2 linked regions of the Homo sapiens genome follow. Changing the gene in region 1 together with any one later gene gives a genetic interaction. Each region holds a gene or a part of one and is shown on either strand. Other genes may lie near its edges.

Region 1 (5,803 bases):
GACTGAGACACTGTTCTTGGCCCCAAACCCAGTTCTTGCCCTCCCAACTACATTGTGAGCCACCTGCTATACTTTTCTCAAAAATCCCTCTCTTCCTTAAATCATCCAGTGACTCAACTGCTTGCAACAGAGAATTCTGGCCGAAACGTGTACACCTTAATCCAGAAATTCCACTGCTAAGAATTTATCTAAATGAAGTACGTATTTATACAAGTAGACCAAGACACATTTGTTACCAAAATATGAAAAACAAGATGTTCATCAGAAGAAGAATGGGTCAGCAAGCATGGTGTAGCCACATAATACAATTCTGTACAGCTTGCTATTATTACAGAAATTCTATAGGCCCACGTAAGCTGATATAAACACTTCTTCAAAACGAGTTAATAGTAAGGGAAGAATATTATGTATAGCATGAGCTCATTTGTGTGTTTTTTTTAAAGGGGTAACTAGATGACAGAGAAGGAGATACGTGAAAGTTTATCATAACACATTTTCTGGAAAAAAATACAAACAATTCTTAACAGTGGTTACTCTGGAGGGATGTGAAGGAGACTTTTCTTATAGTTCTTTGTCCCACTTGAATGTTCTGTCATGTTCATAAATTATGTTCAGTAGAAAATGCTTGAATGTCACTTGCTCAGAAAGGACTACACAAACACCCACCAGCCACACACTCCTTCCTATTATCCTCTCTAATGACTGTTCTTTTCCTCTGGGGCACTTATCACAATGCATTCTTCTAGGTTCATGTGAATTTACCTGTCTAATACCTGTCTCCCTCACAAGACTATAGGCTCTGAGGCAGACGCTGTGTTAACCACTAATCTTCCCAGCTCCTAGCAAAGTGCTCCGCACTAGTGATGCTTAATACACATCAGACAAATGAATGAAGAGATCCAATCCTCCTTCTAAGACTCGGCTCAAGTGAAGTTCTTCCTGAATTATCCCAGCTTGGAAGTGACCTTTTCTCCCTTGGGTCCCCTCCTGCCCTCGTCAGTAGGTACATCTGTCTCCCCCATTAGACTGAGTATCTGAGGACAAAGACCCTGATATTCACTTCTATCTGTGCTGCCTGCTATAGTGCCTTTACACAGAAGGCACTCACTAAAGAGCTGATGAGGCCGGGTGCAGTGGCTCACACCTGTAATCCTAGCACTTTGGGAGGCAGAGGCCGGCAGATCACGAGGTCAGGAGTTCCGTATCAGCCTGGCCAACACAGTGAAATCCCCTCTCTACTAAAAATACAAAAATTAGCTGAGCATGGTGGTGCATGCCTATAGTCCCAGCTACTCGGGAGGCTGAGGCAGGAGAATCACTTGAACCCGGGAAGCAGGGGTTGCAGCGAGCAGAGATCATGCCACTGCACACCAGACCGGGTGACAGTGCGAGACTCAGTCTCAAAAAAAAAAAAAAGCTGATAAATGAGTGGAGGAACAAACAAGACCTCAAAGTAACAATTTACTTGGGTATTAAAATCAGATGTTACTGATGTCTCATTCTCCTTAATCTGGCATTTTAGGGCAGCAAAACCAGTCTGTGTGGAGTCAGTGGTTTCTAAATAGAATTATTCTATAAACTCAAGAGCTGTGGACCCATCACCCGGAACTCAAATGAGACTTGGACAGACAGGAGGTCACTCTTGGCCAGGAAAAAGCACAAAGTTGGGCGGCAGAAGTAAAATGGGCAGACACAAAGCTGTTTACCTACTCACTTTCAACAACTTTTCCTAATTCAGCTTTATGCTCATGACACAAATTACCACAGTTCACTGGCAAGAGAAACCAATTTTCCCATTTTACAAATGAAGCTGCTTTGTATCAATGTCAAACTTCTTAAATTTGATGACTTTATCAAGGTGACAGAAGAGAACATCTTGAAGGATTCAGAGGTGAAAGGCTGTGGTGCCTGCTATTTACCCTCAAATGGTTCCCCACGCACACGAAACAATGATAGGAATAACAATGTGTGTGTGAGAGGCAGAACACATGTGTCAAAATGCTAACAACTGACACATCTGAGTAAAGGACAGATCAGTGTTTGTTGAACGTTACTGTTACTTTTCTGCAAGTCTGAAATTTAAGTAAAAAAAAGAAAAAATAAAAACTACTTAATAGAAAAGGTTATTCCACCTTTACCACCATTTAAAGGTATCAGATGGGGAGAAATAAAAGCAATACTTTGATGGAGATACCTAATACCTTTGAATAAAGCAATTCAGAACAATTCTAAAATTACCATAAGTATCTTCATTTTAGAATAACTGCAAAGATTCATCCGTATGGTATCTGGGGATAAATCATTCTCCCCAACAAACAGTGAACATCTGTTATATAAAAACCTTGTAAGAGGCTAGATAACAACACAATGGCATAGCAAAGTCTCAAACTGGCAATTTCCAAACTACTCAAGGCAGCAGTTTTCCTAGATGTGGAGCCAAGACACCAAGACAGAAAATATTAAGAGGTAAATGACAGCTGGAAAAACACCAGCTACACGATACACACAACCTGTTCGAATTTCTGGACCTATGCAATTTGACCCAGAAGCAATAATGTAAATGTTAGAACTTGAAAATCCCAATTCTTCTAAATATAATTTTATCACTATTTTTTGCAGTCATTAAAAAAAAAAAAATTATCAGCCACCTGTAATCCCAGCACTTTGGGAGGCTGGAGCAGGCAGATCACCTGAGCCCAGGAGTTCGAGACCAACCTGGGCAACATGGCAAAATCCCATCTCTACAAAAAATACAAAAATTAGATGGGTGTGGCAGAATATGGCTGTAGTCACAGCTACTCAGGAGGCTGCGGTGGGTGGATCACCTGAGCCCGGGGAAGTCGAGGTGGCAGTGAGCTGTGATTGCACCACTGTACTCCAGCCTGTGCAGCAGAGTGAGAGCCTGTCAAAAAATCTCCTAATCTAGCAGCTAGAGCTAAAACATAAATGCAAAAAGCTGGTTAGCAAATGAGGAAGAGAGGGGGCAAAAAAATAACTACTATTTACAGGCCAGGCATTGGAGCACATGCTTTATATACGTTATTTCCAACCATTACAACTTGGTGTGGTAGGTATTACCAATACCACTTCACAGGTAAGGAAATTGAGGTTCAGATAGAAATCAAATACCCCAATCCCTCAGAGATTAAGTAGTAAAGAAGGACCACAATCACTCCTCTAGGTCAAAATGTACCTGCCAAGTTTCAATGTAAGGCTTCTACTCTAGAATTCTACTCAAATCTCACCTTCTTCATAAGACCTGTCCTGACATTTTTTTTTTTTTTTTTTTTAAACAGACAGGGTCTCACTCTGTTGCCCAAGATGTAGTACAATGGCTTGATCACAGCTCATTGCAACCTCAAACTCCTGGGCTCATACAATGCTTCTGCCTCAGGCTCCCAAGCAACTGGGACTACAGGCACACACCACCACACTCAGCTTATATATATATGTGGCACAGACCGGGTCTTGCTATGTTGCCTAGGCTGGTCTTAAACTCCTGGCCTCAAGCAACCCTCCCACCTCAGGCTCCTAAAGCACTAGATTACAGGCATGAGCCACCGTGCCTGGCCCTGATCTTTCTATTTAACACTGCCATCTGCCTCCACCCCAGCCCCTGCCCACAACTCCCAAGTCCCCTTATCATGTGTGAATTTAATTTTTTGTTTTATGATCATTGCAAATTCATATGCAGATGTAAAAAATAGAGCATTTCCATATGAAGTTGACTCAGTTTCTCTCAAAGATAGTATCTTGTGTAACTATAGTACAATATCATCTGTATTACTTTTTTTCTTAGTATCACTTTCTAATACAGGCTGAGTAGCCCTTATCCAAAATGCCAGGGACCAGAAGTGTTTCAGATTTCAGGTTTTGGAATATCTACATTATAACTCACCCAATTCAGCATCCCTAATCCAAAAATCCAGAATCAAAAATGCTCCAATGAGGCTGGGCAGAGTGGCTCATGCCTATAATCCATCCAAGCATTTTGGGAGGCCGAGGTGGGCAGATTACTTGAAGTCAGGAGTTTGACACCAGCCTGGCCAACATGGTGAAACCCCATCTCTACTAAAACTACAAAAAATTAGCCGGGCATGGTGGCGTGTGCCTATCACTCCAGCTACTTGGGAGGCTGAGGCAGAAGAATCACTTGAACCCGGGAGACAGAGGTTGCAGTGAGCCGAGATCATGCCACTGCACTCCAGCCTGGGCAACAGAGCAAAACTCCATCTCAAAAAAGAAAAAAATAATAAAAATAAAAATGTTACAATGAGTATCATGTTAGCACTCAAAAACTTTAGGATTTTGGAGCTTTTCAGATTTCAGACTATAAAAATATATTCATAATACACAGGTTGTATAACCTGTGTATATTTATATATATTTATAATACCTGTGTATTAATTTAGAATACCTGTGTATTATAAATATACTTCTCACAGTTGTTTATTGTCTATTTACCCTCACTAAAATACAAAATCCTCGAGAGCAGGAATCACTATCAGAATTGTGTTGACTGCTATATAGCAAGCACCTAGAACACGGCCTAATCTATAGTAGGAACTCAGTATATATTTGCTGAATGAATCAAAGCATTGTATTGCACCTCCTCTTCTAAGAGAAAACAGACCAGCTCTTCAAGAGACCATCGTGGTAAGTAAGAGTACTCTTAAACATCAGGAAAACGTTACACTCACCCATGGTGACATAAGGCAACTTATCAGTTGATCCATGAGGATAGATGCTGTAGAGGTGAGGTCCAGTAACATCTACTCCCCCTAAAACTAGGGCTGCACCAATGTAACCTTGATACCTGGTGATCAGAGTATGCATAAGAAAAAAAACATGAGTCCACAAAGCATCACTGTAACTTAGCCAAAAGTTGCATGAGAAGTCAGGTAACAAAAAGTTTTCCTTAAGACTGTTTCATTAAGGGGTTATTGTTTTGATGGGAACAAAAAAGGGAAGGGAACATTAGATGAACATCTACTGTCAGCCAGTATAAACTATAAATTATGTGAGGCACTCCACACACCTGATTTCAGCTCAGCCTCACAGCCCCCATTATTATTATTTTTTTGAGACAGGGTCTCACTCTGTCACCCAGGCTGCAGTACAGTGGTATTATCACGGCTCACTGCAGCCTCAACCTCCCCAGGCTCAAGCAATCCTCCCACCTCAGCCTCCTAAGTAGCTGGGACTACAGGTGTGCACCACCACACCTGGCTAATTTTTGTATTTTTTTTTGGAGAGATGGCGTCTCGCCAAATTGCCCAGGCTGGTCTCAAACTCCTGGACTCAAGCAATCCTCCCACCTTGGCCTCCCAAAGTGCTGGGATTACAGGTGTGAGCCACCACACCCAGCCCACAGTCCCCTTTAAAAGACAACATTATCATTCCCATTTTAGAAAAGAAAAAACCAACCCAGAGACATTAAGAACTTGCCCGGTCTCAGAACCAAATTGGACTGACTCCAAAGATTATCAGCACTTTTCCCATCACACCTCTCTGTGATCAGCACATAAGCTACCTCCACAGTTAACAATGAGGAGGTGCTAAGCTCAGCTGTTCCACTGTTCAAATTATCAACCTGGCCACAAAGGCCAGGCATGGTGGCTCACACCTATAATCCCAGCACTTTAGGAGGCTGAGGTGGGCAAATCACTTGAGTCCAGGAGTTCAAGACCAGCCTGGGCAATATGGCGAGACCCTGTCTACAAAAAATACAAAAAATTAGCAAGGCATGGTGGCATGTACCTGTAGTCCCAGATACTTGGGAGGCTAAGGTGAGAGGATCCCT
Region 2 (2,420 bases), on another chromosome or scaffold:
AATAAATACTTTCAATGATAGATGTACAGTTGTCTTTCCCATCAGTCAGCTCTTTCAGGCAGGGGCCATATTTACTATGTTCACTGCCTGTATCTTCAGTACCATGTATATAATAGTTGCCCAATAAATTAGAGTTGAAAAAACAAAAGCTGACCTTTTTTTTTTTTAATCTATCATGATTACTTTTTGAGAAGAGAGATGGGGTAGTGACCGGGGGTGCAGGTAGGGGCTTCAGGGTTGCTATTTATGTTCTATTTCTTGTCTTAATGGGGGTTATTTGTACATGTTCATCAGCTGATCATAATTTGTGCTGTATACTTGCAATTGGTGTACTTTCTGAATGTGCTACACTCAAATGATGAAAATTTGGGTCTACAGTAATTCTTTGGAAAAGAAGGAAAGTACAAGCATTCAGAGATTGCCATTAAAGAATAACAGATAATGGCTTCTGAATGTATTAGTCCATTTTCACACCACTATAAAGAATACCCAAGATTGGGTAATTTATAAAGAAAAGACATTTAATTGTGTCAAAGTTCTGCATGGCTGGGGAGGCCTCAGGAAACTTACAATCATGGCAGAGGGTGAAGTAGGCACATTTTACATGGCAGCAGGCAAGACAGCGAGTGAAGAGGGAACTTTCAAACACTTATAAAACCATCAGATCTCATGAGAACCCACTCACTATCACGAGAACAGCATGGGGTACACCACACCCATCATCAATCACCTCCCTCCGTCACTAGGTGGGGATTACAGGTCCCTCCCTGGACACATGGGGATTACAATTTGAGATAAGATTGGGTGGGAACACAGAGCCAAACCATATCACTGAACATGCAAAGTGAAACTTCAGGTGGGGACCACAATGTTCATGGATGTTAGAAAGTACACTCTTAGCCACGAAAACTAGCCGGATGTCACAATGGGAAAGATTCATTGAGATAATGTATATATAGTGCTTAAAATAGTACCAGATACAGTCAGTGACACAGGTTAGCTATTATTACTTTTTGTAACGTACTGGAAGCAGTTCCAAATGAAGGCTTAACCTGGGAAGGAAATTTTCTTCATTACAATCCTACTTTTTCCTTACCACTTTCAAAATAGCTTTTACAGCCTGACTGAAGCAGTGCCTTCACTTACATAATTTATATTTATGATGTCCATGGCACCACCTGGCTTTAGTCACACCCAAGGAAGTCACAACTCCAAGAGCAATCGTGGAGCATCCCCACCACATGAGAGCACAGTGACCTGGTGTGATAATTCTCCAACATGCAAATCACTGGGGCATTTATTAAAACTGCAGGTTCCATGGTCTCCCACACCAAAGCTTCTGATTCACTTAGTCTGAGAGTAGAGCCCAGGAATTTGCATTTTTAAACAAATTCTTCAAGTGATTCTAAAAAAGGTTTTCTACAGAGAACATTGAGTCTCTTGTTTCATAAATGAATGAAATGGAGGCCAGCAAGGGAAGAGACCTATCCAGTCTTCTTTCTGGCTAATGAGAATGCACAGACTAGAATGAAGGTTACCTTTTAATATTCCAGTGTTATTTCCCTGACTCCATGCTACAACAGCTTAGGACCCAGAATGAATCTGTCCTACACCTTGGTTTATTCCACTGACCCCTGATGTCTTTTTACCCATGCATTAGGTTAACTGGAGAGACACAAAAACCCAGCTGTATACTCAAAAGGTATGCAGAACCAGCTACTTTAGAAACCTTTCAATCATAGCCCCAATATTTACATGCTGTGTGACTTGTGATAGTTATTTGAATTCTGTGTGCTTCGGTTTATTCCTTTGTAAAGTGGTAAAACAAAAGCTACATTTTCAGGATGTTGTGAAGAATTATGTAAAATACTAGCACAGAGCTTGCAAATAACAAGTTCCCAGTAAACAGTAACTATTATTAATGCCATCTTAAAACATGGCAATAAAACTACATTTTTTCATTCTCCTAAAGCCGTATTCTCAAAGCGTAGTCCCCTACAACAGAATTACCTGGAAGTGTTTGTTTAAAACATAGATTTCTGAAACCAGCCCCCCATAAGACCTAGTGAATTGAATCATTGGGGTGGGGCCCAGAAGTCTGCATTAACAAGCAAGCATCCTCGATTCTTCTTTTGCATGCAAAAGTTGGACTAGGGCTGTAGACAAAGAGTACTTCTTCTTAATGAAGACGTGTATGAATGAGAGGGAAGCAGTGTTGAACACTCTAATTTGAAACTAACAATTTTCTGCTAATAAAAGGTTGAGTGCCACCTACTGCCCCATTTTAGAATGCAATGCTGAGATTGGTTCAATTCCTCTCTCAGTAATTGAATTTACCCTGAAAAATAAATCAATCCTAAACAAGATATCCAAACAATATAAAGCACTGTTGGAAGAAGAAATAAAAACAGGCTTTGCTT

Evidence for each region.
Region 2: changes in PSMB7 (region 1) and MRPL22 together harm fitness more than expected from each alone (negative genetic interaction), as found in Homo sapiens cells (one large-scale study listed by BioGRID).

What each region holds. Positions count from the first base shown.
Region 1 is NC_000009.12:124,400,617-124,406,419, forward strand, and holds part of PSMB7 (proteasome subunit beta type-7 precursor), read right to left. Parts: intron 4,817-5,803; coding exon 4,701-4,816; intron 1-4,700. UniProt on the Homo sapiens protein: Component of the 20S core proteasome complex involved in the proteolytic degradation of most intracellular proteins. This complex plays numerous essential roles within the cell by associating with different regulatory particles.
Region 2 is NC_000005.10:154,967,492-154,969,911, reverse strand, and holds the end of MRPL22 (large ribosomal subunit protein uL22m), read right to left. Parts: 3' UTR 501-2,420; downstream 1-500.